Linked DNA regions of Homo sapiens: all the other regions are linked to region 2. The links come from fine-mapping of genetic effects on gene expression. A gene starts in region 2. Each other region holds a variant in brackets. All regions are shown on one strand. Distances are between the middles of the regions. Region 1 overlaps STARD13 (StAR related lipid transfer domain containing 13). Region 2 holds the start of KL (klotho). Region 3 overlaps KL (klotho).

Region 1 (8,187 bases), 110 kb before region 2:
GTTGTAAATCAGATTGACCACACACCAGTACCATGCAGCTGTCACTCATAGGACTCACCGTTTGAATTTGACTACACCCAGACTGGTCTTTACCCTGTTCAGTAAGACAAATCCACTGATTGTGAGCTCAGATAGCACAGACTTTTCAAATGGTGACAAATGGTTTTACTTCTTACTCTCAATTTCTGTATCTACCTCATTAAAGAGCAAGTTTGGGGACTGGCAGCCCCCTGACCACACTCTGAGTAGCACTGTCTAGAGTTCCTCATTTCTAAATCAAGCTATTAGTTCTTTCAATTGTCCACCCCAGGAGGTTGTGGTTCTTAGATCCTTGGCCATTCTGATTACTCTTCTCTAGAAATGTACCCCTTAAAATGTGGAGCGCTTAGAAAGAACCCATTGTTCCTGATATATGTGACCAGTGCAGAATGCAATGGGCACTGACCTTTTGAGTCTTGGGATCTATGCTCTGGTCATGCATCCTAAGGTTGGTGTCTTTGTTCAGTAGCCATATTACATGGTTAAGTCACATTAAGCTTACATCTGCCAGAACTCTCAAGACTATTAATAGCAGGAAGGGCTGTTGAACTATGTTCGTTTTATCCTGAAGATCCTGTAATTGATTTTTGAAGTTAGAGTCATTATATTTTACTTTTATGAAATTTTATCTTATTAACAGGTCATCCTTCACTTCTGTTAAGCTCTACACACTTCTCAATATTGCTATTCTCTAACAACAATAACTAGTTTCATCTACCACTTTAGGGTTTATATGGTATTTTCACATATAGTCCCATTTGGTTCTGTTGATAAATCATGCTAGACATGTGTTATTATTGTTTTCATTTTCTAACTCTGAAAACTGAGTCTCAAAGAACCCTTAGCAAATAGCCTAATACCATCTTTACAGTTTAAAAACAGGAGTTCCGGCCCATTCAAGTTACTCTTAAAATGATCATAACCTTGAGACATGCTTCCTTCAGTTATTTACAGTCTTTTAGTCACACGCTTTAGAGGAGTTACTCAACCAGTTACTGACAAAACTCTCTGTAGCAAGCTTGTCCAACCCATGGCTCACGGGCTATATGTGGCCCAGGACAGCTTTGGATGTGCCCCAACACAAATTCATAAACTTTCTTAAAACATTATGAGTTTTTTTGGCCATTTTTTAAAGCTCATCAACTATCATTAGTGTTAGTGTGTTTTATGTGTGGCCCAAGACAATTCTTCTTCTTCCAATATGGCCCAAGGAAGCCAAAAGATTGGACCCCGTTGTGTAGCATCTAGCTAGTGAGCCATATTGTCCACAACGTGGGAACCTATTTTCAGTTGTGTTGCTGAAATTCTGATGCTCCATGTCCCTGGTACGTCCATGGTTTCTGAGACAGGAGAATAAAGTTAGTTTGATGTATCCTTTTCTTTATAAACACATCTGACTCCTAGAGATTTCCATTTTACATTTCTAAATAATCACAAACTATTCATTGTTAACCTCAAAAATTATCAAACAGATGAAATCTGATAATCTCTTTTAAACAATCAGTACACTTCCATAAATACCACTGGAGAGTCTGAAATGTGCCTGATGCTCTGCTGGGTCCCAAGTGCGTAAAAAAACCTTAAACTCTACTGCAATGTGTTTTTCATACTGCAGATCATGGCCCCTTGGTAGGTTGTCAAGTGAATTTGGTGGATCACAAACAACATTTAAAAAAATAAAATAGGCTAAACTAGATTAAAAAGTATCAGAATACAAACAAACAAGGATAATTACTTAAGCATAAATTTTTTTTTTTTTTGCTTTAGTATAGTCTGTATGCATGCCCTGAGTTGTGATGGAAAATACATTTTTTGTTGTGTGTCACTATCAAATAGTTTGAAATATCCATCATTAGTGAAAGAAACAGACACAACCATTTCAATACCCTTTGGAACATACCATGATCGTTGTAGGCACAGGGTGCCAAAGAAGACTGGTCGTTTTTTTTCTCTGTTGCATTTTGCTTTCTATTGCTTTGGTTTTTGTTTGTTTGCTTTGGTTCAAACAACCTAAATACTGCAAAATTTCCCTGAGCTGTTTTCCTTTTTTCCCAGGAGTTTGCCACTTTTTCACATGCCTTAGTTGGGCTGTAAATATCTTCCTGTTGGCCAAAGTGAGTATAATAAGCTCTTAGAGACCAGCAGACAGGGCCAGGCTTTCCCTTCCCAGGCCACAGTGCCCAGCTTGGCATGTGTTCTTAACCTAAATAAAGGAGTCCCTATCCAACTAGTATGTGGTGTGCTGGCATCATAACCAGGTTTGAGAGAGGTAGTTGGGGCCAACACTAAATGTTGTAGTTTCTGTTTTAAAATATCTATATTTTCTTTAAAGTCATATCCTTTTTTTTTGTCTTCTCAAAAACTGTCTGCTAAAAGGGCTTTTTCATAGTCCTTATTTAATATCAACTTCTCACTAGCTTCCTAAAATGCAATACAAAAATCCAATAAGTTCAACGTTCAGCCTATCATGGCACCTTGTGTATAAATGACCCTCATATGTCAGTTTTCATTATATCAATCACAGGAAAAGAGGGAGTAGAAAGTACTAGTAGGAAAGTATATTTTGAGTCATCATTCTGGAGTCTTGCCCTTTTTCCACTTGTACAATTACAACTTTCTAAACTCTTTCATCAGAGCTTTATACAACTTTTTTAAAACTCAGACTCATTTTTCACTGTGATCTCAAGCTGTAGGATTCTTTTTTGTTTCTTTTTGTTTCCTTTTTTTAAGAGACAGGGTCTTGATATGTTGCCCAGGCTAGACTCAAACTCCTAGACTCAAAAGACCCTTCCACCTCAGACTCCCAAGTAGCTGAGATTACAGGCGTGAGCCACTGTATTAGTCCATTTTTCACGCTGCTGATAAAGACATACCTGAGACTGGGTTATTTATAAGTAAAAAGAGGTTTAATGGACTCACAGTTTCATGTAAGCAGGCCTCACAATCATGGTGGAAGGCAAAAGGTACATCTTACATGGCGGCAGACAAGAGAGAAAGAGAGCCAAGCAAAAGGGGTTTCCCCTTATAAAACCATCAGCTCTCATGAGACTTATTCACTACCACAAGAACAGTATGGGGGAACCACCCCCACGATTCAATTATCTCCCACCGGGTCCCTCCCATAACACATCAAAACATGGGAATTATGGGAGCTACAATATTCAAGATTAGATTTTGGTGGGAACACAACCAAACCGTATCAGCCACCGCACCTGACTTCTAAGCCATAGAATTCTTTTCTGTACCTTGGCTTTGTACTCGCTTTCACTTTAAACTTGAATGTTCAAGTTTGTCATTTAGTCAAACCTACACGGAAACTAGATTTTGAAGGAATAAACAAGAATAGGAGGATCCCCACAATGATTAACTGTGCATCTGCTTAGGTTTCCTTAAAAACAACACACTGCAAGGTTAAAGGGAGTTAAAGTGGACGCTAGATACATAAAAAGATTAGTAGGCAATTGAACAAACATTGAAAGATACAAATAAGCAAATACCTCTCAGTGAGGGACTGCTGAATGCACTACCTTCTTTATTCTCTTCAGCAAACCTATGAGGCAAGACCCGCTTCAATCTTATAAGTGGCAGAAACTTACTTTAGAGAGGGTAAGTAGACTGTGGACAGTCACCTAGCTCTTAACTGGTATCACTGACACTTGGAACCAGGTCTTAAAACTGAACACCCAGGTAGAGTAAAATAAATTTAATTCAATTCACAAAAAATAAGCAATTATTATGTCCTTGGCATTGGACAGGCTATACATATGAATAAATATGTTTATATGAATAATGAAACAGAGAAACACAGGTCTTGCTCTTTTTTATTTTTTTGAGATAGTGTCTCACTTTGTTGCTGCGGCTGGGGTGCAGTGGTGCCATCACGGCTCACTGTAGCAGGCCCGGCTCTTGATGACTTCACCTGTAACAACTGAGAGTGGAGGCTTTCAAGCAGAAGGCTTCTAAGCTGAAAAAAAAAAATCATATGATTCGATTTGGACTACACTGTGGAAAGCTATTTAGATGGGGAAGATGCTGGAGACAGGGTTTCTCCCACATTTTTACTGTAACAGATCCAGAGAGAGGTGGCAAGGCCTACACTAAGAGAATGAGAGTGAAATTACGAATGAGGGAACAGATTTGAAAATCAGTTCAGAATTAGGTCTTGGTGATGTGCTTGGTGAGGATGAAGCAGGATCCGATGATTCAGTTTATTTCAGAAGGAAATGATATGCTCTAGGTCAAGGTCTGCGCTGGGCCCAAGGCTATGCAAAGCTAAACCAGGCCATCTCTGGCCTCAGGGAATGCAGATGCTCCCCTCTCAGGGGCTGCAAATTCAGGCAGAAACCAGACACCTAGAGTCAATGTGTGAGGCCCAAAGTGTAAGACAGTGCCAAGCCGCGGGGACCCACTGCAGCCACACAGAGGTGTGCGTCCTGCCAACGGCATTCTGACTCGGAGTTGATTCCACAGA[A/G]AAAGACGCTCATGCAGAGTAGCCGGATTGGATCACAAATAGCGATCTCCAGAATGGCTCCCTCATCTCTACTTAAAGAAATTCAGTGGTTCATTTTGCTGTTACCTTATCCAGGGAATACACGATAAGAATCAAGTGCAGGGGACTAAAATAAGGAGTGTTAGCTTTGAGATATACTGAAGCTGAGATTCAGATGGGGCAAGCTGGAAATATGGTCCCCGGGGCTCAGTGAAGAGGTTTCTGGAAAGAAGTAAGTGCCTTTTATGGCAGAGTTGAGTTCCTTTGTGAAAAAGAAGACTGCAGGTGCTTTATATTTAGACCGTCTAGTCTGATGTAATTATACCCTCTTTATAATCAGTCAGGGAAAACTTCTTAGAGAGGAAGGAAGGAGGCATTCAAAACCTCTTTGAAAATGGGAAGGAAGAAAGTTTGGCAAGTTGAGAAGGGTCCTCTGGCCACTGGGAGGAAGGGTATGTACAAGACAGTGCAAGTGGTAGAAGGACAGCTTAGAGGTGCCCAAGAAGCTCACACCTGTGCATGGGAGGACAGAGGGGAGGGAGGTGGAGGACCACACAGGGCTGCCCTCAGAGCACCCAGAGTTCCTGCTTCAGCCACGCTGTCTGCTAATGAGCATTTTCCTTGGTGCTCTGCAGGGTGACGACTCCGATGAGGAAGATCTTTGTATCAGCAACAAATGGACTTTCCAAAGAACCAGTCGCAGGTGGTCTCGTGTGGACGACCTCTACACGCTGCTCCCTCGAGGAGACAGAAATGGGTCACCGGGAGGCACGGGGATGAGGAACACGACCAGCAGTGAGAGCGTCCTCACAGACCTGAGCGAGCCTGAGGTCTGCTCCATTCACAGCGAAAGCAGTGGAGGCAGCGACAGTCGCAGCCAGCCGGGCCAGTGCTGTACAGACAACCCGGTCATGCTGGATGCCCCACTCGTCAGCAGCAGCCTCCCACAGCCCCCCAGAGATGTCCTCAACCACCCCTTCCACCCCAAGAATGAGAAGCCCACGAGGGCTAGGGCCAAATCATTTTTGAAACGCATGGAAACACTCCGAGGGAAGGGAGCCCACGGGAGGCATAAGGGGTCTGGGCGGACAGGTGGCCTGGTGATCAGTGGGCCCATGTTGCAGCAGGAGCCAGAGTCCTTTAAGGCTATGCAGTGCATCCAAATACCAAATGGAGATCTCCAGAATTCGCCGCCACCTGCCTGCAGAAAAGGGCTCCCATGCTCTGGCAAGTCGAGTGGCGAGAGCAGCCCGTCGGAGCACAGCAGCAGCGGGGTGAGCACGCCCTGCCTGAAGGAACGCAAGTGCCACGAGGCCAACAAGCGCGGGGGCATGTACTTGGAGGACCTAGATGTGCTGGCGGGGACAGCACTGCCGGATGCAGGGGACCAAAGCCGTATGCATGAATTTCACTCCCAAGAGAATTTGGTGGTGCATATTCCCAAGGATCACAAACCAGGAACATTCCCCAAGGCACTTTCTATTGAAAGCCTCTCTCCCACAGATAGTAGCAATGGGGTTAATTGGAGGACCGGTAGCATCTCCCTGGGCAGAGAGCAGGTCCCTGGTGCCAGGGAGCCCCGGCTCATGGCGTCCTGCCACAGAGCCAGCCGAGTCAGTATCTATGACAATGTCCCTGGCTCCCATCTGTATGCCAGCACAGGAGATCTTTTGGACTTGGAGAAAGATGACCTTTTCCCTCACTTGGATGACATTCTGCAGCATGTCAATGGGCTCCAAGAGGTAGTCGATGACTGGTCCAAAGATGTCTTGCCTGAACTGCAAACTCATGATACATTGGTTGGGGAACCTGGCTTATCCACCTTTCCATCTCCTAATCAGATCACCTTAGATTTTGAAGGTAACTCTGTCTCAGAAGGTCGGACGACACCCAGTGATGTGGAAAGAGATGTAACATCTCTTAATGAATCTGAGCCTCCTGGGGTCAGAGACAGGAGGGATTCTGGTGTAGGGGCCTCTCTGACCAGGCCAAACAGGTAGGTGGCATGCACTTGTGAAATGATTTTTCATCCATTTCATAGTAATTGTGTTCTGTTTATTTCTTTAACAAACATACACAGAGTACTTACTAAATGCCTGACTCTGTTCTAAGTGATGTATGTGATTAGGAATTATTTGAACAGAAGTATGACTTCTGTACAGGTATCATGGTGATTGAATCCATGTGAACTCATATTTATTTGTGCTTATCCTTTATTTTGTTCCTAGTTTTATCCAAAAATATTTTGAGCTTCTTATGTGCAAAGCGTTATACTGGGCACCATAGGCAGGGAATCCTGGATAACCAATACCCAGTTCCTAGGCACCGACTCTTCCCCTGACCTTCCTGTGATGCGTTCATCAAAATGTCTCTTCCCCAAATTTTACACTTTTTTTGCTCCTATAAGAAATTTCTGAGGCCTAAGATGTGTACTCTGCAAGTTTGTTTTTGCTTTAAAGTGCCAATTACAAAGTACATCAAAGCTGACCTACAAAGACCGTTTCAGAAGCACCATAGAAAAATGGCCCTGTGCTGCTGGGTTTCTGGTTGAGGCAAGGGTGTGTCTTGTGGTTCAGTGATGTGTCACCTCTGTACCTCTCATCTTCGGGCTCCATCTCAATACTGAGCAAGATATAGAGTGTAGACACATGGAAGACAATGAGAAAATTTTCTACAGCCCTAGACATTCGACAGCTCTCTCCCTCTCTCTCTCTCTGTTTCTTGCTCCCTGTCTGTATCTCTCTCTCTTTCTCTCTTTGTCTTTATCGCTCTACCTCTGTCTGTCCTCTGTCTATATTGCTCTATCTCTGTCTTCCCTCTCTCTGTCTCTTGCTCTGTCTCTATCTTTCTGTCTCTGTCTGTCTCTCCATCCTCTGCCTCTGTATCTCTTTTTGTCTCATCTCTCCATCTCTCCATCTACATCTGTCTCTCTCTTTTCTATCTCTCTGCTCTCTCTGCTTCTGTCTATATCTCCCTGTCTCCGTCTCTTTCCTCTCTTTCCGTTTCTCTCTCTCCCTCTGTTTCTCTCTCTCTCTCTCTCACATACACACACACACACACTCACTCACACACACACTGTCTCAGCTTGCTCTCAACACTTTGGGAACAAATTTGGAATAAACAAACATAATATTTCCTCTATCACTTATTTAAACCCCCTAATAAAATGGATAATAAGACTTTTTCCAGATTTATCTGACTTGGAAAAATCATGTCCTATGTTTATTCTGCACACTTGTGTCTTCTGTTCCATTTGCTTTGCGATTTTCTTTGCTCGGCTGCTATCTTGATTAGCTGCGTGTACCTTGGTGATGTCCCGTGTTTCCCGCTACCAAGTCCACTTTGTGACTGGCTTCTCTGATGGTCTCTCTGGTAAAGGCGACTCCGATGGAACAGTTTCCAGCTGTCGCACCAGCCCCGGCCGGCCCCAGCATCGCCCCACATCAGCAGCCAGACGGCCAGCCAGCTGAGCCTGCTCCAGCGCTTCTCACTGCTCCGCCTCACGGCCATCATGGAGAAGCACTCCATGTCCAACAAGCACGGCTGGACATGGTGCGTAGCACATTCACCTAGGAGGGGATCCTTGGCTCTAGAGCTAAGTGTGTGATTGCAGAAGCTTCCATGTTTACTTTGTGATATCTGAAAAACCCATTCATTGC
Region 2 (8,187 bases):
CATAATGTCACCCTGTAGAGCATCCATCATGGCACACTGCAGGGGGCAAGGCAGAAATAAGAACCCCAGCAGTGAGGCTGTTCCCATTACCCAGGCAAGGTTGGATGGTGTCTTGCACCTCCATCGTAGTCATAGATAAGGGGAGAAGTGGTTTGATTCTGGACACATCCTGGAGGTAGGTAGAGCTGCAGGATTTGTTGATGGATTAGAAACAAGACATGAAAAAGGGGAGTAGTTAAGATTCGGGGTCCAACAACTGGAAGAGTAAAAAGTCATCATAATAGAGAAGGGGAAGCAGGGGTTTGGTTTGGGATGTGTTCGATGTGACATGCCCATTAGACATCCACGTGGAGAAGGCGGTTGTCTATGCCAGTCTGATGCTCGGGGAAACCTGGGTGGAGACTCAAAATCTCCAGTCATCGGGATGCAGCAGTATTCAAAGCAATGGCCTGGAGTGAATCTAGACAGAGCCCTGAGCCCTCCACTATTTACAGGCAAGGTGAGGAGGAACAAGCAAAGGAGACTAAGAGGGAATCGCCAGGGAGCTGAGAGGAGAAGCAAGGGAGAGCCAGGGCCTGAAATCCAAGTTGAGGAAGGATTCAAGGGACAAGAAGTGATGGCTTCAACAAACATTGCAGACAGATGGGCTGAGACCTGCACACTGATGCTAATGCTCAACAATGCCCAGATTAATATCTCCTAGCCCTACTTCCTTACGTGAAAGAAGTCTTTTTCACAGGTTCCTTGCACAAATGTTTGCAAGAATCTCAGGCGGTGAGGGGAGTTGAAGGTGGGAAATGGGAACACGTGTATTTCCAACTTGATTCTAATCCTCTTAGAACCCATATACAGAACAAAGACTCAGAGGCACTGCTGGGGCTGAACTCCCCAACTACAGTCCCTAGTGCTGATTTCAGGGGACATTAAGAACTTTGTTTCAAGAGCTGTGAAGGCTGAGCAGTTGGTCTTCAAGTCCGAGAGAAAAGGTGCATCCTCCTGGATTACACTCAAATGAGCAAAGCAGCCTGAGCTCCAAGCTCTTTGTAGGAGACCTCTCTCTCTCTGTCCCTCCTCCCCTCTCCCCTCTTCTCCTTCTCTTCTGTCTCCTCTCTCTCTCTCTCTCTCTCTCTCACACACACACACACACACACACACCATTTTTGCCAAGGCTCACTCCAGTATGAGGAACCCACAAAGAACACCAAGACCTCCATTCTGAGCAGGGCCTCCATTATTTGTCCTGCTGTTTGTTTGTTCTGCCTCCTGTCCTCCAGGCCATCAATGATTCTTGACTCTCTAGGAGGGGTCAAGCTTCCCATCATCCCAGGGGATCTCCTTAGCCCATTTGTAAGTTAGTGGAAACACAGAGGGAGTGAGGGAAGGGTGCTAGCCAGTCTTTATCCTTCACCAACATCAGATCCCGGAACACAACTGGCCCCTATATCTGTACAGCAGCAATATCTAAGCCCCAGCTAAAATGCCCTTTTATCAAAATCTGCAGAATGTTTTATCTTTTTCAGGTAAGCTCAAATTTTTCTATTCTCGCTTCCCCCAACCCCTATATACACACCGAGAAAGGTCATTGAAAACAGAATGAAAGTATCTCATACAACAAAATTAATTCAAGATACTTTCTTTGACAATGGGAACTCGCTTCTAAATAAGATACAAGAATGACTAAACACCAAACCAAAAGAAATGTGAAAGCAAAATTAATACTTTACACCAACTAACAGTTTGTTTGCAACATCAGCAAATGGAGCATTCACCTGTTACTAATTTCCCTAAATACAAAGTCCACTGCATTTCTAGGAAGGATGGTTAGTGTTTGGCAAATTTTTTGTGTAAGCATTGAAAAATATAACTGAGAAGTTAATCAGAGGGCCATGAGTGGGCAAAAAGATCTAAAACATGTTGATTATTTAAAACACCAGAGCACCAGAGAGCACGCAAGTCTTTATCTTATAATAAAATGATCCTATAAGTCACTATAATAACAATTGACTACTTTGTATATGCAAGTTTATCCTAGGGACTCTAAAAATAGAACTTGTAGGATTTAAATCTAAAGTAAAGATTTTATGGGCATGATCTATTAGATCCTCCAGCTGATCCATTTATTTGCTTCCAGTATGAACTGATAACTTGCTTATGTTTTCTTCAAAAAGTGAGACCATTCTTCCCATAGTTTTTCTATCACCAGCCATACACTGGTGGTCTTTAGAGTTTTTCAGATCCATAAAAGGATTGAAAAAGTATAAGAATCACCGCTCTAAAACATCCTTATGAAAAGACATACATAAGTATGAAATCACAAAAATCACAATGTGTTTCCAAACAAATCCAACATTCTTTTATGGCCAGTAGCAGCAAACAGGTTTTGTGGAACTGACATAAAATCTAATTTAGCCATTATTACAACATTACCAGCAGCTCAGAGCACTAAGTCACCTCAATAACCCAGTACTGCTCTGCCCATATTATCTATGGCTTTAATTAAAAGTGTTTAGAAATGGTTTTAGTACTGACTTTGTTCAGAATATGTGGCTGAATTCTAAATTTAAAAATAAGTCTTCCAGTAGGCCCACAAGTGATCAGAATTGGGTACCAAAAGTTGTACATTTAAACACTTTTATTAAAATGTTTATACATGTACATAAAATATTTTATTGTGATACAAAACTCTGTACAAAGTGTACTAACAACTGACATGATTATAAATGAATCCCCAAAACAATGGTGCCTAAATTTGAACACTAAGGAGAAAAAAGGAGGAAGAAATACTTGAGACAACTTTACCATGGCATAGCAATATTTCCTGCTGTCAAAATTAATAAAATATTTTGCACAAGGGTGTTACAATTAATTTTATCAGGCTAACAATGTCATAAGTGAGGAACCCTTTCAACTGTAGAGAGCACTGTGGAAATATAGATGTGGTAGAACAATCTATATCACCCTGCAGTTGTTTCTGTGTTTCTATGACTAGCTTTGTTTGAGATTGTATAAAGCGGTCTTCACACCCCGGTGAATAAGATTGGTGGATGCAGTTCCCTGCCCTGCCGCAGAAGGGACCTCCAAACACAGTTTAAATCTGACTCTCCGGGAGTTGTGTTTTGACACTTTCACAACAGTGTGAACTTGTGCCACAAGCAAGACAGATCTTATTGGATTAACACTGAACTCGTGACAGCTCCAGAGAGTAATGCTATCTGTGCGGCTTAAGAACAAACGTGTTTCTTTCATCCACCCTGCTCATTCTCTTCCTGCAGTTACTCCTAGCAAATCCTCCCCGCCCTCACCTCTAGGAATTCCTCTACACCCAGAGAAAGGAGTTTCTTTCCTCACTGCGGAAACCTATCACCGCTTCCTTTCCACAGATGGACTCCAAGGGGCACTCACTCGTGTGCCCACTAAGGGATTTCTCTCCTAATTCCACGCCTTCCAAGGGAAGTCAGAACTGCTCAGTTTCCCCCGGTGACCACATACACGTGTCCAAGTGAAGCCTCGTCTGGGGGAGACTCAGTTCCCACACTTCCCCCTGGCCCCTGTGGAGGCCCTCTGTCTCCCCTGCGTGGCCCTCCGCCTGGCCCCTCGCACTCACCAGGAGGAGGTTGTGCGCCACCAGGTACCCGAGCCGCGGGCTGCCCCGGATGCCGGGGGCCAGGCGCCCGGTGGCGTAGCCGTGCCAGGCCACCACGTAGGGGTTGTCGATGGTGATCCAGTACTTGACCTGACCGCCGAAGTGGCGGAAGCAGAGCTCCGCGTAATCCCTGAAGTGGTCGGCCAGGGCGCGGTTGGCCCAGCCGCCGTAGGCGTCCTGCAGGCGCTGGGGCAGGTCCCAGTGGTACAGGGTGACCACGGGCTGCACGCCCAGCTCCCGCAGCCGCTCCAGCAGGCGCCGGTAGTAGCGCAGCCCCTCGCGGTTGGGGACGCCCGCGCTGCCATTGGGGAGCACTCGCGCCCACGAGATGGAGAAGCGGTAGTGAGTGACCCCGAGCTCGCGCAGCGCCTCCGTGTCGCGGAAGACGTTGTTGTAGCTGTCGCTGGCTACGTCCCCGGTGGCGGGCTGCAGCGGCGACGGGGCGCCCAACGGCAGACTGGCGTTCCGGGAGTCTCCCGGGGGTGCCAGGGGGTGGTGGGTGAACGTATCCCAGATGGACGCACCCTTGCCGTGCTGCTGCCAGCCGCCCTCGGTCTGGTAGGCGGCGCTGCCCACGGCCCAGAGGAAGCCGTCGGGGAAGGTGCCCTGGAAGAGGCCCGCGGCCTCGGGGGCAGGAGGCCGCGAGAAACGGGCCCAGGTCTGCGCGCCGTCGCCCGGCTCCGCACGCAGGCGGCGGCCGCCCAGGCCCAGCAGCACCAGCAGCAGCGACAGCGACGGCGGCGGCGGCCGCGGGCGGCGCGGCGGGGCGCTGGCGGGCATGCTGCGCGGGAGCCAGGCTCCGGGGCCCCGCGCCGCGCCCCTTTATGCCCGCGCCCCGCCGCGCCCGCCCGCCCACCGCCGGCGCGCCCACCCCCGCTCCCCGGCGGGCTCCGCTGGCAATAATTACCTGCGAGCCGGGACTGCCTCCGCCCTGGCACTGGGGGCGGGGGCAGGGGCGCCGAGGGCGAGGGGTGCCCGGGAGGGGCGCGGCAGCGGGCAAGGTGCGGCAGGCGTCGCCCGCGGACGTCGGAGAAAGGCACCTGTTTCTCCCAGCTCCCGGGAGCCGTGCAGGACGTTTCGTGGACGCTCAGGTTCATTCTCTTTGCCTGCCGCGCGTCCTCTGAGAGCAGCCCTGGAGCGGCTTCGTCGGGGAGAAAAGGCGCCGACCAACTTTCCCCGACTTGGGGGCGGGATCCTGCCGGGCCCTAGCGGAGCGCGCCGCTGGGGAAGCACCTGCTCTCACTTTTCTCCCACTCGGAGGCCCAAAGAAGCTCCGGCTGGACATTGCTGGAGCCAATTAGGGACTGGCCGAAATCCTAGAGGGACTGCCAGGTGGGACAGCCGAGGGGGAACTTCGCCGTGCGCTGAAAGGGATTCCCCCTTAGGTGAGATGCTCGCGGGGAGACGCGCCCACCCGCGCCCCTCTTTCGAGGAAGACAAAGTAGATTTATGGGTTGCGTTGGGACTGGGGTTTTGCTCTCCCTTTTACTGTTACCTTTTAATAATTTCAAACCAGCACTCTATCTTTGATTAGATCTCTCAGAATACCCTGGTGAACTTCAAATCACAGTCGTTGATTGTTCTCCTGAAAAACCAAACACCAAGTTTCCAATTTTGAGTAAATCTCATTCACCTTTATTATCCTTTGGCATCTGTGTTACCTTTCGGCTCTGACTTAGCAGGTAATCTGTGCAAAGTTGTGCGCACAGGTCTGCTGGAGCGGGAGGTCCCTGGGTCGCACATTTGCCATCTGAGCTGTGGAGGGAAAGGGGAGGGAGAATTTAGCCGGAACACCCATTCCCATCCTCTACAATACAATGGAGCCATGACGTTTTTCCTGTTGCCAAAGAGCCCTTTTGACAGAAGTTGCAGAGCCACAGTGTCCATTTGGATGTGGGTAGATAGGATTGTGGCTAACCGAAATACAGTTGGTGGAGACTGAGAAGGTCTAGGCTCCACCTTTGTGATTTGGGGCAGGAAACCTCTGTAAGCCTAAGTTTCCTCCTCTATAAAATAAGGATGTCCTGTCTGCCCTGCCGCCTCAGAGGCTTGTGAAGTCCAGTGAAAAACTGCGCAAAGGTGACTCAAAGACAGAAAGCCCAGACAAGTGAAGGATCTTGCTAATATCCCTACCTCCCTACCCAGTAAGTCGTGCCTTAGTTTCCTCACCCGTACACGTGTGTTGAATGACCAAGATCCTCACAGAGGTGCATCCATTCTCCCCCAGTGATCTATCTTCCCTGCATTATTTAATACAAATTTAAAGGCAATAACATTTTAAATGTTGCAGATGAAGGTGCTTTTATTAATTCCCCTGAAATATAAGCACAAATTTATTCCAGTATTTTATGAAATATTCCCAACTCCAGCCAGCATATATTACCATGATTAGTAAGATTAAGTCTTCAGATTGAAACAGAGTTACTGCCATTCTGTTAAATATAGCATTTACATTTTTTCAATAAATACGAAATAGCAAACCATGACACTTCAGCAATTTTAAAAAATTACAGCACACAACTTCACTGTCACGCTGTCTTCCAGCTAAATTTAAAAAGCTACGTCTACATGGAGTATCACATTTCCCTTCTAGAAGTGAAGATTGGAGTGTCTGTTGGGTTGTAGCTTGTTAAGTTTCAATTAGAAATGCTTCATGGGTCTCATGGAAAATCGCTTAAGCTAAGTATTCATTTATTGATGTATGGTCTGTTTGCTCAGGGCAGATTTTATCTATTGCTATTTTTACTTGACCAGCAGCATTTTTTAAATTTTAAAGCAGTGATTAAAAAGCAAGACCAAGTTAACTAAACGTTTCACATTTGAAATTTGTCTGCCACATAGGCACATGCATCTCAAAGCTTTAAGCATTCCAAGACATGTTCCCAGATGATTGTTCATTTAACCCAGTGATAAAGATTGCATGATGATTAAACTTTATTTCCAGAACTTTCTGTTTATTAAGGTTCTGTTCATGGTTACTAAGTTCTGGGTTCCACAAGTGTGAGACGGAGTCTCACTCTGTCGCCCAGGCTGGAGTGCAGTGGCATGGTCTCTGCTCACTGCAACCTCTGCCTCCCAGGTTCAAGCAATTCTCCTGTCTCAGCCCCCCAGTAGCTGGGATTATAAGGGCACACCACCACACCTGGCTAATTTTTGTATTTTTAGTAGAGACAGGGTTTCACCATGCTGACCAGGCTGGTCTCAAACTCCTGATCTCCTGTGATCCACCCACCTCGGTCTCCTAAAATGCTGGGATTACAGGTGTGAGACACTGTGCCCGGCCTAGTGCTGCTGCTTATTTATTTTGGCTTTATTTTGGTTTTTATTTTTTACAACCACCTTCAAACATCTGAAACTTGGGTTTCAAATGCAAATAAGAGATTAATTACTTGCTGTGCTTTGAACAGGAAGGTGAAGTTATTGATGCATTGAAGAAAAGGACATTGTAAATTTATTTACTGACTTTGATTTTGGTGACAATTTCAACACTGAAAGTTGTCAACAATCTGATCAACTTTTCCTCCATTCTCCACATTCCTTCATCCAGTGCCTTCCCACCTGTTCTCTTTCCTATTGTGTTCCCAGGACGATGGGAGCCTTTTAACACCAATGGAGCAGGAGATGCACTGATTCACATGCACCCAAATACAACACCAACCCCACAAGCTCTCAGCTCACCAGTCACAGACATCACCTTCTACGGACATATTTTTATTTCACTGAGCTACAACTACGGGCAAGGCAACGACGAGCTGTGTGGAGACTTCAAAACATAGAGGACAACCTCTGCCCTCAAAGACAACATCCAACTGAAGAAAGGATCAAGAAAGATGAAAATAAATAAGTTGTTTGATTATGCTGTGTTAATAAATGACCCATAGAATAATTGTCAGAGAAATTCAGAAGAAGAAGAAATTACCCTATTTTGAGTTGTTTGGAAAAGTTTAACAGAGAAAAATATGACAATATCTGGGGTTTAAAGAGTAAAACTCGCACAAAGACCTGGAGGGAAGGAATCAAGAGATGCCAACACTGAAGAAAAAAACATGTTCATAGTGTATTCGTGGTGAAAAGAAAGGGTTTTTGTGCGCAAGGAAGTAATGGACCAAAATGCAGTAGTCCCAGTGCCTAGAATCATGCTGAGCACAAAACAAGTATTTGTTTAATGAGCAAATGAAAGTAGAGTTTCATTTGTCCAGTTAACAAAATACACAAGTATTCCCTGCCCTCCTCTTTTTAAAATTAATTAATTAATTAATTTTTAACAGACAAAAAATTATATATATTTTCATGTACAGCATGTTATTTTAAAATATATACACATTTGTAGAGTGGCTAAATTGAGCTAATAAACGTATGTATTACCTCACATACTTATTTTTTTTGTGGTAAGAAGACTTAAAATCTGGCCGGGCGTGGTGGCTCACACCTGTAATCCCAGCACTTTGAGAGGCCGAGGCAGGTGGACCACCTAAGGTCAGGAGTTCGAGACCAGCCTGGCCAACATGGTGAAACTCCTGTCTCTACTAAAAATACAAAAATTC
Region 3 (8,187 bases), 26 kb before region 2:
GGCATGGTTATATTAATAACAAAATGGAGGCTTTGAACATCACTATAATTCACCTAGAGCTAACAGACATATATATTAATAGAACATGCCACCCACCTAAAAAAATCAGAATATACATTTTTCTCAAGTGCACATGATACATTTTCCAGGATAGATCATATGTTAGACCAGAAAATAAGTCTTAATAAATTTTAAACTGTTGAGATCATAAAAAGTATTGTTTCTTACCACAATGAAATGAAACTAGAAATCAATAACAAAAGGAAAACTAGAATATTCACAAATACGTGGAAATTGTTGACACACTCAAACAAGCAATAAGTCAATGAAGAAATCACAAGGTAGATTAGCAAAAGCTTAAATGTGTATATAAAAAACTAACTGAATATGTAACATACCAATACTTATAAATTGCAGCAAAAGCAATGCTCAGAGGAAATTTTATAGCTTTAAATACCTACATCAAAAAAAAAAACAAGATATATCTCAATAACTTAGTCTTCCACCTTAAGAAAATAAAAAAGAAGAGCCAACTAAACTCACAGCTAACAGAATAAAGGAACTAATAAAAATTAGAATGGATATACACAAAATACAGAGCAGAAAAATTATAGAATCAACAAAATCAAAAGTTGGTTCTTTGAAAAAAATCAACAAAACAGACCAACCTTTAGCAAGACTGACTAGAGAAAAAAAGAGAAAAGAAGCAAATTAATGCAATCATAAAAGAAAGTGGTAACTGACCTTTTCTGTATATCATTTCTATAATAAAAAGGATTACAAGAGAACATTATGAACATTTGGATGCCAGCAAATTAGATAACAGAGATGACCTGGCCAAATTCCCGGAAGCACACACATTACCAAAAGTGGCTAAGGAAAAAATACAAAATCTAATCTAGGTGTAAAAGAGATTGAATTAGTAATCAAAAACTTTCAAACTAAGAAAAGCCCAGGACTAGTGGCTTTAATAGTGAATTGTACCAAATATTTAAAGAAGAATTAACACGACTCTTTTCAAGCTCTTCAAAAAATAGAAGAAAGAACACTTTCTAACTTAGCCAATGTGGCCAGCATTATCTTGATACCAAAGCCAGATAAAGCCACCACAAGAAAATAATAGTTACAGATCAATATCCCTTATGAATATAGATGCAAAAGAATGCAACCAAATACTAACAAAACAAATCCAGCAGCATATTTTAAGAATTATACAGCACAATCAACTAGTATTTATTCCAGGAATGCAAAGATGGGTAAACATTAAAAAAAATCGTTGTAATGCATTACATCAATAGAGTAAAGGGGGAGAAAACCCATATGATTATCTCAATTAACGCAGGAAAAGCATTTTACAAAAATCTGAAAGTCTTTCATAATAAAAACACTCAGAAAACTACGACTAGAAAGGAACTTCCTTAATATGATTAAGAAAAGCATTTATGGGCCGGGCGTGGTGGCTCATGCCTGTAATCCCAGCACTTTGGGAGGCCGAGGCGGGCGGATCATCTGAGGTCAGGAGTTCGAGAGCAGCCTGACCAACATCGAGAAACCCCGTCTCTACTAAAAATACAAAATTAGTCGGTGTGGTGGCAGGCACCTGTAATCCCAGCTACTCTGGAGGCTGAGGCAGGAGAATCGCTTGAACCCAGGAGGCAGAGGTTGTGATGAGCCGAGATCACGCCACTGCACTCCAGCCCAGGCAACAAGAGAAACTCCGTCTCAAACAAAAAAACAAACAAACAAAAAATTATGAAAATCCACAGCCAACATTACAGTGAAAGGCTGAGAGCTTCACCCCTAACATCAGGATTGAAAGGAAGATGCCTGCTTTCACTATTGCTCTCTAACATTGTACTAGAAGTTCTTGCCAGAGCAATTAGGAAGGAAAAAACTATCCAAGTTAGAAAAGAAGTAAAACTATCCCTATTCACAGATAACATGATTCTACATATGGAAAATCCTAAAGAATTCACAAAAATCTATTGCAAAAAATAAACGATTTCAGCAAAATTGCAAGGTACAAGATCAACACACAATAGTCAGTTGTATTTCTGTACAATAGCAATGAACAGTCCAAAAAGAAAATTAAGAAAACAATTCCATTTATAATAAGTTCCAAAAGAATAAAATATACACAGGAGTACATTTAAACACTCTCACCATTGCTATTAAAATTGTACTGGAGGTCCTAGCCAGTGCAGTAAGGCAAATAAAAACATAAAAGGCATGTTGATTGAAAAGGGAAAAACAAACAAACAAAAAAACAAACTTTGTTGTTCATTAAAAACATGATTGTCTGTGTAGAAATCCTAAGATTTTTAAAAAAACAGAAAAACTATTAAAACGAATAAGTTAATTTAGCAAGTTGGCAGAATACAATGTCAATACAAAAATCAGCTGCATTTGGCCAGGAACACTGGCTCACACCCATAGTCCCAGCTACTTGGGAGGCTGAGGTGAGAGGCTCCCTTCAGCCCAGGAGTTCAAGTCTGCAGTGAGTGCTGATCACGCCACTGCACTCCAGCCTGGGTGACAAAGTAAGCCTCTGTCTCAAAAAAAAAAAAAAAAAAAAAAAAAAAAGAAAATCAATTGCATTTATATATGAACAGAAAACAAACAGAAAATAAATTTTAAATACAATGCCACTTACAGTGGTACCAAAATCGTAAAATACTTAGAAAATAATTTAACAAAAGATGTGCAAGTTTGCTACAATTATAACACATTGCTAACAGAAATTAAAGAATATGTAAATAAAGAATGAGATACCATTTTCATGGATTGGAAGAGTCAATATTGTTATCAGATTTCCCCAGATTGACCTACTGAATCAACACCATCTCATCCAGAATCCCAATAAACTTTTTGTAGAAATGAATAAGTTGATTCTAAAATATATACAATAAGAACATAAAACAGCTAAAATAACTAGAAAAAGGAAAAACACAGTTGAAACATTCACATTACCTGATTTCAAGACTTATTATAAAGCTATAATTATTTAATATAGGGTGATATTGGCATAAGGATAGACAAATACATCAAAGGAGCAGAACAGAAAATTCCAAAATAAACCCACAGCCAACTGATTTCTAACGAATGCATCAAAGCAATTATGTGGCAACAGGAAAGACGTTTCAACAAATGATCCTTGACAACTGGAAAAGTGTATGAAAAAATTAAACCCCAATCTTGCATAAAAATTTGAGACAGATCATAGATCCAAAGCTAAAAGCTAAAACTATAAAACTTATAGAACAAAATGTAAGAGAATAGTCTCTTTATCTTGGAGTAGGAAAATACTTCTTAGAACACAGAAAGCACTATATAAATATACATATATTAAAATATCTCCCCTCAGTATGTGATTTGCCTTTACATTTCGCTAACATTTGATGAGCAGGTTTTAATTTTGACGTCGTCCAATTTATCAGTTTTTGTTTATGATTAGTATATAATTGACAAAATAATTATATCCGAAATAAATACGTAAGCCTACCTATCAGTAGTAAAAGAAAAATAACTCCCCTTCCCACCATGAGCAAAATATTTGAATAGATATTTCACAAGAGAATCTTCACCAATGCTCAGTAAACACATAGAAATGTCCTCAACATCAACACTATCAGGAAAATGCAAATTAAAACCCCAACGAGCACTCACACCCACTAAGATGCCTACAACTAAAAATACTGGCAACAGGCTGGGTACAGTGACTCACGCCTATAATCCCAGCAATTTGGGAGGCTGAGGCGGGCGAATCACTTGAAGCCAGGAGTTCGAGACCAACTTGGGCAACATGGTGAAACCCCATCTCTACTAAAAATACAAAAATTAGCTGGGTGTGGTGGCACGCCTCTGTAGTCCCAGCTGCTTGGGATGCTGAGGCATGAAAATCCCTTGAACCTGGGAGGCAGAGGTTGCAGTGAGCCGAGATCACACCATTGTATGCCTGGGCAACACAGTGAGATGCTGCCTCAAAAAAAAAAAAAGACTACCAACAAATTCTGGCAAGGACGTAAAACAACGGAAATTTCATACATTGATGGTGGGAGTATAAATAGTACCACCACTTTGGAAAACTATTTGACAGTTTCTTATAAAATTAAAGATAGATTTTCTCTATAATCTAGCAAGTTCATACCTAGGTATTTACCAAGAGAAATGACAACATAAGCCCCCCAAAAGACTTGTACAATATTAAGATAAAACTTACAAATTGATATGTTCAAAGATGCTGGCCGGGCACAGTGGCTCAAGACTGTAATCCCAGCACTTTGGGAGGCCGAGGTGGGTGGATCACCTGAGGTCAGGACTTCGAGACCAGCCTGACCAACATGGTGAAACCCCGTCTCTACTGAAAATACGAAACTTAGCCAGGTGTGGTGGCACATGCCTGTAATCCCAGGTACTCGGGAGGCTGAGGCAGGAGAATCGCTTGGACCCACGTGGCAGAAGCTGCAGTGAGCTGAGATCGCTGCCACTGCACTCCAGCCTGGGGAACAAGAGCGAAACCCCATCACAATTAAAAAAAAATGCTTATAGTAGCTTAAATCGCAATAGCAGAAAACTGAAAACAACACAAATGTCCATTCACAGGAGAATGTATAAACAGTGTGGTTTGTTTATACAATGGAATACTATTCATTAATGCAAAGAGTGAACTACTCTTCTAGGCAGTAATATGGATTAATGTCAAAAAGATTGTGTAGATTGAAAGAACTCAGACACAGAGTACATTCACAGAGTTGTTTGATTCCATTTACATAAAGTCCCAAAATCAGTCTGTGGTGATGGGAATCACAACAGCGGTTTCCTACGGAGGTGAGAATTGATTAGAAGTCACAAAGAAACTTTCTGGGGTAATGAGAATATTCTATATCTTTACTTGGATATTTGTTACAGATATCCATACACATACAGGTGTATGTAGTCATCAAAATTCATCAAATTGCTTATAAAACATGTGCATCAATTTTAAAGATCTATAGATTAATAAATATATAATAGATTAATATCTTAGTCATTGGCAAAGCTATTCAGGTATAGAAATATAATTACCTACAATTTATGTGGCAAGAGAATAC[T/C]GATTTTCTCCGAAACATAAATTCATCTTTGAAACTACTACAGTAATCTGTTAGTTAAAAAAATATATATATTTAGCTTTTAATTGCAGGGATCATATTCATTCAACAAATATTACACTAGGCACTTTTCTAGGGGATTCAAAATATGATCCTGTTCTTATGGAGCTTACATTCTTGGGAAGAAGAGAGATAACAAATGAAAACAAAGCAGAGAAAGGATAGAAGGTAACAGGGATTGGGATGGGAAGGCAGTTTAGACAGGCAAGTCTTCTTCAAGGAAGCATTGTCTGAGGATCTGTAACAGAAAAAGTGAAGAATGCTAAAAAAGACTGGGACCTGAGATGGGGGTGTGTGGAAGGAGCAGAGAACCCGGAGGATTGGGCAGAGGCGGTAGAGGGTACGGGAAGGGCATTCCAGGCAGAGTTGAGCAAGTGATGAGAGCATAGACTCAGCCAGGCTTTCCTAATTCTGCCCCCTTATTAGCTGTGGGACCTTGGGCAAATTATCTGAAGTCTGTGCCTCTATTTCCTCATCTGTAAAGTAGGGATAGTAATAGCACCTCATGGTTATATCCTTGTGAGGATTAACTAAGTCAATACATGGAAAGCACTTAGAATTGTAAATGCTATGGAAGTGTTTCTTATTCAAGTGTTGTAGTAATGTTTGATTGGTAAGTTCAAAGATACTTACAGTATTAGGTTGGTGCCAAAGTAATTGCAGTTTTTGCCATTTAAAAAGTAATGGCAAAAACTGCAATTACTTTGGCACCAACCTAATAGCTTTAATCACAATAGCAAAAAAACTGAAAACAACATAAATGTCCATTTACAGGAGAATGTATGAACAGTGTGGTCTGTTAATACAATGGAATATTACTCCTTGTTTCCTTGTGACTCTTAATCAATTCTCAACATAGGAGACCACTGTTGTGATTCCCAGTACATAGAGTGATTGTGGGACTTTATGTAAATGGAATCAAACAACTATGTAAATGTACTCATTGTGTCTGGGTAATGATTGATAAGTTTCCAAAAATCAGTGGCTACTACGTGGAAAATAGGATCTAGGAGGACAAAATGGGAGCAAGGATACCAGTTAGACAACTATTGCAATGGTCCAGGCAAAAGATCATGATGGTTTGGACCAAAAAAGATAGTAACAAGTGGCTAGATTTAGGCTATTATTGAAGGCAGAATCTGTAGAACCTGCTGATGAATTGGATGTTACATGTTGCATGTGAGGAGGGGAAGAGGAATCAAGGAACTCAAAGAAAACAAAAAATAAGGAGTTGGGGAAGGGAAGGGATCAAGTTCTATTTAGGTCACAAGTCTAGCTTTCAATGAAGATGCCTGGTACTCAGCTGAGTATATGAAGCTGAAGTTGGAGAGACATGGATGGTATCACCAATCACCCAAATATGTTTCAGGGGTAATACTGAATGGACCGCTTTTTGTTATCTATCATTCATTAGATTTTTTAAAAATTGAAATGGAATAATTCTTAAAGGATTAATTTAATCCTACAAATAATCTTAATTAAATGGACTGAGACCAATGGTGGAAGAAATGAAATGCAGCCCATAAGCAGAAAATAATTCAAATAGCTCATTTATGTCTTCTCCCTATCTAAGAAAAGGGCCCTCCAGATGTTACTTTAGTTCTGAATTAAAGGTGACCGTTTTCAAAAAGGTCAAAGGATTGAAAAAATTTTAGAAGGCACTAGAGATTTATTTTCTTTTTCTTTCTGGCACCCTATTACCTCAACTTCAAGAAGAGTATTGGGATTACATTGTCTGAGGACTTCCTTAAAAGTCACTGCTACTGTGTGGTGTTTACATAAGCATGCCAACTAGCCTGATGTTTGTGCTCGCAGACCAAATTATTTCTCTTATTTCTATCAGCACTATGGTTTATAAGCTGCAGTTCCTTAAGACAGAATTTCAAACAGCCTCCCACAAAACAACCACCTAATAGAACACATAAATAATTTCCCAAAAATAACTATCTACAACTTTATCCACAAAAAATAGCCAGTAGTCTCTGTGTGCAGTTCCTTAAAAGTTGCTCAGGATTTAACCAATGCAAGGGGGCTCATATCTGCTTTCCCTGACACCCAGTTAGACGAATATGTGTGAACAGGCAGCAGCTTGGCACCCCTACCTGCTTTGGACTTCTTAGCAAATCAAATAAGTTGCATTTCTAGCTCTGAGCACCAAGCCTTACAGTCTTCTACAAAGTAACAGGAAGACCAGTAGAATCGCATATAAATGTAAACAGCATCACTTCCCAGCCTAGCTGTTTTGCTACAGCCAGGTCAGTTTCTCATTACTCCTCATCCAGGGCTGTACCTACGTTGGATGCCAACCTACTAGCCCTGAAGTTGCATTCTACTTTTCCTTCATATCCATATCCCTTTCTGCCTTCTGTTCTGGACTTGCCTCTTCTAAGAAGTAGTTCCTAATGAACCCCACTTACTCTTAGTACTATCTTCCCCAATTATCAACTGAAAATTCTCACTTCTTCCAAATTTGGCTCAATTCCCATCTCCCCTGTGAAGTCTTGTTTGGCTCCCCACGTGCATTTAGGCATTCCTTTCCCAATGCACCCCACCCACAAGCAGGAGTAAATAACATGCTTCTTCATAGTTCTTCCTAAGTTGGTGGCTCTTCACCAAGATTGTATTATACTCCCCCACAACAATAAAGTTGAATGGAAACAACTTGAACATCCAATAATGTGGAATTATTCATTCATTTATCCTTTCACTCAAATATTTATTAAGTAACTACTATGGGCCATTTATAATTCTTAAATTAGTTGAAACAACCTAAAGGGCTAACAATAGGGATTAGTTAAAATAACCCAGGAATAAGACATTAAATGAAATAAATTATTAGCAACAAATGATCAGTGTTGATAAATAAATTATAATTTATTAATTTTATGAGCAATAAATGATCACCATGGACAAATATAGCTTATTAAATTACAAACTATAGTTAGCTATAGATAGACCACGTACAGTATTACCTAATTTTGGAATCATATGTACAGATGTAAAATAAATACACATAAGACAGGATTTTAAAGGATTTGTA

What was found. PIP is the estimated chance that this variant, and not a neighbour inherited with it, causes the effect.
Region 1: its variant is fine-mapped to the expression of KL in whole blood (INTERVAL, PIP 0.95).
Region 3: its variant is fine-mapped to the expression of KL in whole blood (TOPMed, PIP 0.98).

What each region holds. Positions count from the first base shown.
Region 1 is chr13:33,127,266-33,135,452 of GRCh38, reverse strand. STARD13 (StAR related lipid transfer domain containing 13) reads left to right here. Exons shown (of 14, transcript NM_178006.4): 5 at 5,164-6,524; 6 at 7,907-8,080. Among named protein-coding and RNA genes, the nearest start is that of KL, 110 kb to the right of the region's middle. The variant A/G (reference allele first, on the strand shown) is at 4,511.
Region 2 is chr13:33,012,677-33,020,863 of GRCh38, reverse strand. KL (klotho) reads right to left here and starts at 4,441. Exons shown (of 5, transcript NM_004795.4): 1 at 3,605-4,441. The coding sequence starts at 4,423. LOC124903151 (translation initiation factor IF-2-like) reads left to right here and starts at 4,411. Exons shown (of 2, transcript XM_047430819.1): 1 at 4,411-5,028; 2 at 7,229-8,012. The coding sequence starts at 4,422. The coding sequence ends at 7,419. RefSeq lists enhancers at 3,416-3,475, 3,684-4,261, 4,262-4,837 and silencers at 3,546-3,645, 4,336-4,405.
Region 3 is chr13:33,039,037-33,047,223 of GRCh38, reverse strand. All of the region lies in intron 1 of KL (klotho), which reads right to left. Among named protein-coding and RNA genes, the nearest start is that of KL, 27 kb to the right of the region's middle. The variant T/C (reference allele first, on the strand shown) is at 5,091.